Linked DNA regions of Homo sapiens: all the other regions are reported to be linked to region 2. Evidence: microRNA targets listed by miRTarBase, many of them from high-throughput screens and not tested one by one. Region 2 holds a microRNA gene; each other region holds the end of a gene's coding sequence.
The links. The annotated mature microRNA hsa-miR-3182 reads GCUUCUGUAGUGUAGUC and lies in region 2 at 1,338-1,354, opposite strand. An mRNA with a match to its seed (bases 2 to 7 or 8) in the 3' UTR can be bound and repressed. Matches are read on the target gene's strand: a 7mer-m8 pairs with bases 2 to 8, a 7mer-A1 pairs with bases 2 to 7 and ends in A, and an 8mer does both.

Region 1: miRTarBase lists ARHGAP21 as a target of hsa-miR-3182. Seed matches in the 3' UTR shown: 7mer-A1 at 2,644-2,650.
Region 3: the mRNA of TRIM10 is a reported target of hsa-miR-3182. Seed matches in the 3' UTR shown: 7mer-m8 at 701-707 and 7mer-A1 at 740-746.

What each region holds. Positions count from the first base shown.
Region 1 is chr10:24,581,601-24,584,860 of GRCh38, forward strand. ARHGAP21 (Rho GTPase activating protein 21) reads right to left here. Exons shown (of 26, transcript NM_020824.4): 26 at 2,014-3,260. The coding sequence ends at 2,812. Among named protein-coding and RNA genes, the nearest start is that of ARHGAP21, 140 kb to the right of the region's middle.
Region 2 is chr16:83,506,443-83,509,702 of GRCh38, reverse strand. It overlaps MIR3182 (microRNA 3182), which reads right to left and starts at 1,357; the gene lies at 1,295-1,357. All of the region lies in intron 7 of CDH13 (cadherin 13), which reads right to left.
Region 3 is chr6:30,151,146-30,154,405 of GRCh38, reverse strand. It overlaps TRIM10 (tripartite motif containing 10), which reads left to right. Exons shown (of 7, transcript NM_006778.4): 7 at 1-2,463. The coding sequence ends at 437. Among named protein-coding and RNA genes, the nearest start is that of TRIM10, 8.4 kb to the left of the region's middle.

The DNA.
Region 1 (3,260 bases), not on the chromosome of region 2:
AATGATGTATTATGCAAATACTAACCAAAAGTAACTAATATAGCTACATTAATATATAAAATAAGGTAATAAAGCTTTGGTTGAGACTCATTATGAAGGACATTTCATAATAGAAGGGTCAATCTACCACAAAGACGTAACAATTCTAAATTTATGTTCACTTAGTAAACTAACTTCAAAATAAAAGATTGACATAAAAGATATGCAAATCTACATTCATATCATAATATTCTATCACTTCTCAGGAACTGGTAAGAGCCAGGGAAGAAATCTATAATGATCTAGATCTGTAAAACATGATTAAATTTGACCTAATACACCAAATAAAAAGCATCCAGTAAGGATAGAAACATATTCTTTTCAAGTAGACGTGTTATTTCTCAAAATTGACCATATAGTGGGGTCAAAATGGATGTCTCAATTTCAAATGTATGTTTAATGATAATGTAACATTATGCTGGAGTCAACATAACCAGAAAGTTTTCAAATGTTTGGAAATTAAGCAATACATTGCTAAATAACTCACAGGTTAAAGAAAAAAATCAGAATGCAAACTAGAAAGCATTTTGAAATGAATGATAATAAAAATACAGCATATAGCCTTAAAATGAAGATATTAGAAAACAACTAAAAATCAATTTTCCAAGCAATCGTCTCAAGAAATTAAAAAGTCGAGCAAATTATAGCCAAAGAAAGGTTGGGCGTGGTGACTCATGCCGGTAATCCCAGTACTTTGGGAGGCCAAGGCGGGCGGATCGCTTTGAGCCTCGGAGTTTGAGATGAGCCTGGGCAACATGGAGAAAGCCCATCTCTACAAAAAATACAAAAAAAAAAAAGTTAGCTGGGCATGGTGGCATGTGCCTGTCAGTCGCAGCTCTGCAGTGAACTGTGATGATCGTACCACTGTACTCCAGCCTGGGCAATAGACTGATAGTGAGACTCTCTCTCAAAAGAAAAAAAAATATAGAAAAAATGAGGAGCAAGAACAAATAATATAAAACTATTTGAGCCTTGAAAGTAACTTTTAAAACATATAAGTAAAAAGTGTTTTTGACACTTTTAATAATACACTGCAAGAACTCCCCCTCATGTAAACTAAGGGAAGTGTGTGCTTTGTTTTGTTCAAAACTTTAAAAGCAGAGCATGACTCCTAGTAAAATCTCATCGCCAGCAGCAAACTATTCATGGTACCATCTCCATGTGTAGTTACCATTGTTAGTGACTCTATATACTGGAGCAAACATCTGACTATTCCATTATATTATTTTCATGATGTAGTTGTACCTGAGCATTTGCATATTGAAAAATTTATTTTATTATAAATCACTTTCATTTTTCTTTTATAATAGGGGATTATGGTCTATATCATAACATACTCAATGTAAAGTTATATTTAGATATATTATGAATTTCATGATGGTAAAGGGGAAATCTCAAAATACTTTTAAGAAAGTATCATGTTTGACAGTTGACAATCTCTGGATTTGATGACTGTTAAGGTCCTTCTCAGCCTTAACAGTCTGAGATTTTTTTGTAACCATTACTTCCAACAATAGCTTTGTTCTATTTTGAAACTAGTGTGTGGCAGGCACTGTAAGTGGAACAGTATCTCATTTAAATCTAATCACCCTTATAATAGGTAGTGTTACTGTAACTAACTGTTTATATGAGAAAACAAATTCAGAGAAGTTAAATAATGTGTTCAAGTTCACATACCTAGGTAGAGCTGGACTGACTCCAAACTCATGTTCGTTTCACTCACGAAAAGAACATTAACATAACATACATTACTTTACCTAGAAGAGTTAAACACTATCAGTCAACAAGTGAGGTTAGGCTAATGTAAGCATCTGTAAGAAAGAGTCTCTACCCACCACAGCAAGAAAGAGGAGAAGATGGAATGTATAAATATAGTAGGCACCTTTTTAAAGTCAGGACCAATTAATCATGTAAGGTAGTTATAAATGGATGACATCTAAAAATATATCAGAATAAGTTTCAAGCCATGCAAAATTCACCAAAACAATTTTTATTTCCAGTGTTTAATTGGGTATGCACACAGGCATGACACAGGTTTGGATTCATTAAGTCCTCATGCAGAATTATATTCTTCTCGATAAAGAAGCCAGTTCCATCCAGGATCCACTATCTACACACCTATGTTACAACATTATATCAAATCTGGTATCTGAAGAAAAGATACACATTTAATATGTTCATTTAAGTTACGTATTTTACAGAAAGATTAAAAATTCAAGTCACACAAAACTCAAAAACTGTATTAAAAGTTTGAATATAAAACTCAGATCCACCTGGAATGACTAAAGAATGGAAGTTCTGTATCCACCTGTGTTAAAACTGGTAAATGTAATGATATCTGTTACCAATAAAACGCATTCGTTTATTCAATGTAAGTAAGTTATCTAATTTTAACAATATGGCACCCTAAAAACCAACTGTATTTTTATGATGAGGCACTTTTGTTAGTGATGAAACCAAAAGAACAAATTTGCTGCACACTGATGCCAGCGATTTTCTTCAGTGATTTTGGGTATATGCTATGTAGTAAGTTGCAACAAATACCTTGCTCATTTGTATACAACTATCCGATATATTTTTAAATATATATATATATATATATGTTCTTCTGGCTGTAGTAATGCACTGTAAAGCTATTTCACAGTGCAAAATGATGAAACCAGCCCAAATGAAGGCTGCATAATAACAATTCTGATACAAGAAAATATTGACAGAGTTACTGGAACGTGTAACAGTAGTTTTTTTACTTGCTAGAGTGGACATACCCCCAGTTTAAAGACAGGGATGAAACTCTGCTTTACTGCCTGGGGTTTCAGACAGTTTATGAGGTTGGGCATTCGCTGCAGAACTAGCATTTTTGCTCACGTTCTGGAAGCTTTCTCCGTTTATTTGGTCAGGTGACTGTGGTGGTATGGAAAGAAGGGGCCTGTTTGTTGAAGCCAAGGTGCTGGAAGAACTGCCTGTGTTGCAATGAAGAGACAAAGGTGTGTCGGTCGTGGCTATTTCTCGTGTGCTTGGGTTCTCTGTCTGGGGATCTCCGATTTCTCCTCTGCTAAGGTCAGAGGTACTGGTGCGTAGGCGTTCCCTGGCCAGCCAGTCTGAGATGGAAAGGTCCTGGGCTGAGCATTTTGGTTTTAACCGGTTTACAGCTGAAAGTTCAGATTCTCTCTCCCCGCTCTGCTCATGCACTTTCCAAAAATTCAAAACGCTGATTTCGGTAG
Region 2 (3,260 bases):
TGGTAAATCAAATTTGTCTTATTCCCTCTGGTTTCCCACTCTTTGCCTTTATATGTTTTCTTCTCTCTGCTAGAAATAGTCTTCCTTTCTCCCTTTCCAGAAATCTACTTCCCACTCTTTAAATCAGAGGTCAGCAAACCACAGCTAATGGGACAAATCTGGCCCACCATCTGCTTTTGTAAATAAAGTTTTATTGGAACACAGCCATGCTCATTCATTTATGTGGTATCTATGCTTGCTTTTGTGCTACAAAAAAGTAAAGCTGCACAGTTGCAGCAGCCACCATATGGCCCACAAAGCCTAAAATACTTACTATCTGGCCCTTTACAGAGAGTAAAATCTGCAGATCAGTGCTCAAAAATCTTTTGCTCAAGTTATCCCATACCTGGGCATCTTCCTGATCCCCTTGAGACAAAGTTACTTCCCTGGCCATGGCATGTTCCACATATCATCCTGCTGTAAAGAGTCATTTCCATGGCCGCCTCCCTGCTATACTTTGTGAATACCATCAAGGTGGGCATCAGCTCTTACATCTTTGAAACTCTGAGGTAAGAAAGGGTGACCCTAAGTATGGGAAGCCCCTGGGGGCTGGGGAAGAAGGGGGTTGAGTAGAGGGATTATGGAAACTTGGCTTCAAATAGAGGAATGAGAAGGGAGGGCAGAGGGTTTCTGTGATGTGTGCATGCTATGCAGACCCCACAGGCACTCATGCACACAGAGCTGTGATGGCATGTACACACCTATGCATAAATTCTCAACTCCAGGTACCCATTAGCAGCATGAGAAAGTACAAACAGATCAGCTGGGTCATTACACCTCAGCTCTACACGGTACCTTGTGCCTGTTACAAGATATCTAAAATATAGAAGACAAGAGAGAATAATGGATCCAGCTAGCTCTCTGCCTATTTGAGTGCAAATAGCTTATTCAGGATACAATCTTAAGAAGCACAAGTGAGGGAGAAAGAGAAGTGAGACAGAATATGTAAAAGAGTCAATACACAGGTGGCAATGGGCAGATTATCTCTGTGGACAACTGGTGTTCAAACTCACTGGGGTCATCTGGGAGACTCGGGAGAACATATCTCGAAGTTGTCCTATTCCAAGGGTCAAGAAGGGATGGTAATCTACCAACTCTTGCCACTCAAAGGCTGATGGCTGTTCCCTGGGCAGTAAGACTGAGCACACTCCCATGGTCAGAGGAAAGTCCAGGCAGGCAGCTGCAGGGATTAACAGGTTGAAAGCCTGTATGGGAGTGGTGGGTTCCTGGGGATCTGGGTGAGCCATCAACAGTCACTGCTCTATGATCCAACCCAAGCATCGAAGGGCGGATGCACGGACTACACTACAGAAGCAGCCATGGGGCAACGCAAAACTTCTCTCTAATTTTTTACCCCATCTTCTCACTGCTATCCTCCAGAACCCCAGTAAGTGAGTTATTGAACCGGGGACAGGAGAAGTAAACTGCCGACCTGATTTGGCAGACTCCACATTTATTAAATGTATTCCCTTCCCTTCCCTTTCCTCCCCTCTCCTCCCCTCCCCTCGCCTCCCCTCCCCTCCCCTTCCCTTTCCTTCCTCCCTTCCTTCCTTTTCCTTCCTTCTTTCCTTCCTTCCTTCCTTCCTTCCTTCCTTCCTTCCTTCCTTCTTCTCTTTCTCTCTTTCTTTCTTTCGACCGAATGTTGCTCTTGTTGCCCAAGCTGGAGTGCAGTGGCGCGATCTCGGCTCACTGCACCCTCTGCCTCCCGGTTTCAAGCGACTCTCCTGCTTCAGCCTCCTGAGTAGCTGGAATTACAGGCGCCCGCCACCACGGACTGCTAATTTTTGTATCTTTAGTAGAGACGGGTTTTACTATGTTGGCCAGGCTGGCATCGAACTCCTGAGCCCATGATCTGCCTGCCTCGGCCTTCCAGAGTGCTGGGATTACAAGCATGAGCCACCGCACCTGCCCTCATAAATTTTTTACTAAGCAAAACATTTTTAAACTAAGTGATAAGACAATTTTTATTTAAAACCAAGGATGTCTGAGCATGTGCCATTAGATGAGATCAGGCAATTCAGGGTGCTATGCCCACAGGAAGGCTAGCATTAGATATTAACAGTCTAGCTCAGTTAAGCATTCCAGTCACCTTTGGAAACGTTTCCTGGGCTCTTTAATTTGTTTCCAGAGTAGCAACCAATTATCATTATTGTACTGTTAAGAATGGGACAAAGACTGTGTACCATTAATACTGCTTCTAAACTACTTTAAAGAACTTAGTCTTTCTAGCCAAATATGCTTTGAAAATGTCACTGGCTTTAAATGTATTTGGTTTAAATTTCCCCAGGTTCTAACACACACTCTTCATTCATTCAGCCATCTTCTGAGCCTCTATTAATAACAATACCTCTTTGAAGAATGCATACATTACAAACTTTCTCAAGAAGCCTAGAATCGACAGAGGAGAGAGACTGTAATAAAAATATTGCTTTTCCTTGTGACAGTGGCATTAATAGAATGCTAAACAATCTGTGTGAGAAAATGAAGAAAGAGGGATTGAGTCATGCAAAGAAGACCAGAAAAAGTCCACAGAGGAGGGGCTGCTCACACCAGGTTTGGGGGGTAACAGAGAAATGAGCAGCAATTTTAGCTGGTGAAACAGACTATGTGTATTAGTTATCTAATGCTGAATAAAATTACCCCAAACTTAGTGCTTTAAAGCAACTAAAAACATTTATGATTGCACACAGTGTTTGTGGCTTGGAGATATGGAAGCTGCTCAGCTGTGTAGTTCAGTCAGGATGTTGGTGAGGCTACAGTTATCTAAAAGCTTGATGGGGGCTAGAAGGTCTACTTCCAAGGTGGCTCACACATACGGCTAAAGAATTGATGCTGGCTATTAGTAGGTGGCCTCAGTTCCTTGCCATGTGGATTTCTCCATGAAGCTACTTGAGCTTCCCTACAACACGGCATTTGGCTTTGCCTGTAGCAAGAAAGGACAAGAATAAACAAGGCTCAGAATTCACACAAAGTCATTTCTGCCATGTCCTATTTGGCTACACAAGTCATTCCTATTCGATGTGGGAGGGGACCACGCAGGAGCATGGGTACCATGAGGTGAGAATCACTGGGAGCCCTCCTGGGGGCTGGCTACCATAATATGCAAAAGTCAGAAGTGCATTATCTTTGAGGGAAGAGAAAATGCTGATGCCATTGGAACGAGGGTGAGTTAGGAACGTAGTGGTACAATATAAAGCCAGAAAGCATGGGTCAGACTGTAG
Region 3 (3,260 bases), not on the chromosome of region 2:
AATGGCAGAACTCACCAGACAACCCCCAACGTTTTGACCGGGCCACCTGTGTTCTGGCCCACACTGGCATCACAGGGGGGAGACACACGTGGGTGGTGAGTATAGACCTGGCCCATGGGGGCAGCTGCACCGTGGGCGTGGTGAGCGAGGATGTGCAGCGGAAGGGGGAGCTTCGGCTGCGGCCAGAGGAGGGGGTGTGGGCTGTGAGGCTGGCTTGGGGCTTCGTCTCGGCTCTGGGCTCCTTCCCCACACGGCTGACCCTGAAGGAGCAGCCCCGGCAGGTGAGGGTGTCTCTTGACTATGAGGTGGGCTGGGTGACCTTCACCAACGCTGTCACCCGAGAGCCCATCTACACCTTCACTGCCTCCTTCACTAGGAAGGTCATTCCCTTCTTTGGGCTCTGGGGCCGAGGGTCCAGTTTCTCCCTGAGCTCCTGAGAAGGAGCAGTTACCTACTCTCCTCTAAGTACAGGACTCATATCAACCCAAGTACCATGTGGACTTGATCCCTGGCTGAATCACCTGGATGACTTGGAATAGAAATGACTGCTTTAGAAGATGGGATGGGGCCGGGTGGTAAGGGATAGAAGAGAGGACTCTCAATCTACTGATCAAGTCCTTTCCCCAATGCCCAGTGGATGGCCAGGGTACCTGGGGACTCAGGCTGCTGCCAGTTCTGCTCACCACCATCCGTGCTTGGCACAGAAGTAGCTGCATAGAAAGGGCACTGGATTTGAAGTCAGAAGACCTGGGTTCTTGAACCAGCCTGTCAACCAGTTGTATGACTTTAAACAAGGCATCTCACCTCTTTTCATCTTGTTTTCTTCCAATAATGTTAGAGTTCATGTAATCACATTCTCTAGAACCATTTAGTTTGTGTTAACTATGAACCAAGCAGTGTGGTGGCCACTGGTGACTTGAAAATATAGAGAAAAAAAAAACCTGCTCTATATCTGAAAGAGCTCTTGGGAAGACAGAGAAACATAAAGAGGAAATTACAGCACAGTGTGGTGGGTGTTACGGGAAGTCCAACCCCAGCATTATGGGAGTTCAGGGGAAGGGGCATAGCCCAGCCTGGAAGGAGAGGGTGAGTGGGGGATGGCTTTCTGAAAAGGGTGGTCTAAAGGATGCCTATGGTCAATAGGGAAAAGAGGGGAAGAAGCATCTTAAGAAGAGGAAACAGCAGAGAACTGGCTGGATGACCTGTGACTCTGGAGCACTGGGTTGTCTCCATTGTCATTATGGGCAGATGTGTGCCATCCCCAGCCGACGCCACTCACTGCCTCCTTCCTCCTGGTGTTGCCACTTCTGGGTGAGATTAAGGTGCAGGGCCTGGGGGCAGGAGGACATAAGGTATAGCCATAAATCATAACCCAGGGACCACACTCAACCCTAGGGAAATTGTCTTCCTGATCAGTTGATTACCATCTGAGGTCAAGAAATGAGATAGTGGGAGCAAATGGGTCACAAATAGCTCAGCTGTGGGCTCAGAAACTGCTAGGTAAAAGAATTCCAGAAGGAGGCCAGGGCATAAGTTGGATGACCTATGAACTTTAGTCTAAAGAATTGAGACTACCGTAATTGAGACTACTGTAGTGACATCTGAGAAATGGGATGGAAGAGTGACCATGTTTTATTTTCTTGTTCTTGTCACTATTGTATTTTATTTTGCATAATCATGCCCTTCACTGACAGTCTCCTTAACATCATCTGTTTACTCTGCTCAGTGTAAACTACAATGCTCTGTCATCTCCCTACTGGGTCTCCTGGGAGGAGGGGAGCCATCCAGGGTGCAAACTCAAAGGCAGAGGGCACAGCGTGCTTAGGCCCAAGCTTAGAATTCAATTGAGAAGTTCTGTTGTTCATCCTTACCTCAGCAGGTAGAAAAGAGGTGGAGATCAGAAGCCAGGGATTAGAGATTGAATTGCTTTCCCTGGGAGTGTGCAGTATCTCATTAAAATGTTGTATATTCAAAAAAATACAGACACACACAAGTGCCTATATAATGATAAAACATATCCAAAGCACCCAAACCTGTGATTCCAGAAAAGTAGATCCTATTTTTGTTTATTTTTATTGGCTTTAGCTGTGTCTTTTGAAAGGACTATTATCCTCTAAAATGTATGTGTATGAAGATCCTGGCTTGCAGCTCGGGAGCTTTACACACCTTGTGTCACTTTATCTTGGTAACGAGCCAAGATCATGCAACCAGTTCATCCATGTCTGACCCAAGAGCTCTTAACTGCTATGCTGCACTGCCTCATTCAGAGATAGATGCCTGCATGGGTCCTGGCGATTATTTTAATGCTGGCTACACCCCCACAGGTGACTTGGATTCAGAAATACAATTTATATTTCTTCTTTTTAAATTGTTTTATTTTATTTTTCTTTTAATAGTTATATGTCAGTGAGAACAATTTATATGTCTTACACTGAGAAATAAAACTGCTCATAAGTGAAAACACTCATGTTGGTCTGTCAGTACCTGCTTCTCCCCTAGGGTAATTTTACTTGAAGTTTACTTGCTTTCGGAGTATGGAGTCAGCACAGGGGAAGTGGATAGATCCTAAAACCTGGTAACTTCAAGATAAGGCAGCTTAATGAACCTCCTTGCTCTGCTGGCCGGAAGTGGGACTCTGGGTTCCCTCCCCAGGAAGTGCTCAAGTCTAGAGGCCCCAGAGTCCCAGCTACCCTTTCCGACTCTGAAGGACTGTTGCACATTTGTAACATCCACAGTTTACACCTCATTTTTCAAAGCTTACATGGTAGCAACCCTTTCTATTGCAAAGAACTGAGACCCACTCAAGTTAGTTCAAATGATAGGTAAGTTTATTATAAAAGCAGAAATAAGGAAAATGCGATTTTCCACCATGAGCCAGGCCCCGTGAGAAGCTATGTCAGGCGTGAGCGAGTTGGTGGGGTCACCACTCGTTCCTGTAGGAAGAACTAGAGATTCCAAAAATGCTGATAACAATCACACACATAGAACTTATTTTGGCCAAACACCATAATAAATATTTGTATATATTAACTCATTTAATCCTCACAACAACCTCAGGAGGTAGGTGCCCATCTTGTACATAAGAGAACTGAGACATGTGGAGGCCGAGCAGCTGGTCTCAAATCAGCTGATAGTAAGTCGCAGAGCCAGCATTTGAAGTCTTGTGGTTTGGCTCCCGAGTCTGTGCTCATGACCATTATGCAGTGGTATGTTGTATGCCCAGGACCTACCGGTAAGAAGTGGGCTCGAAGTCCAAAGAA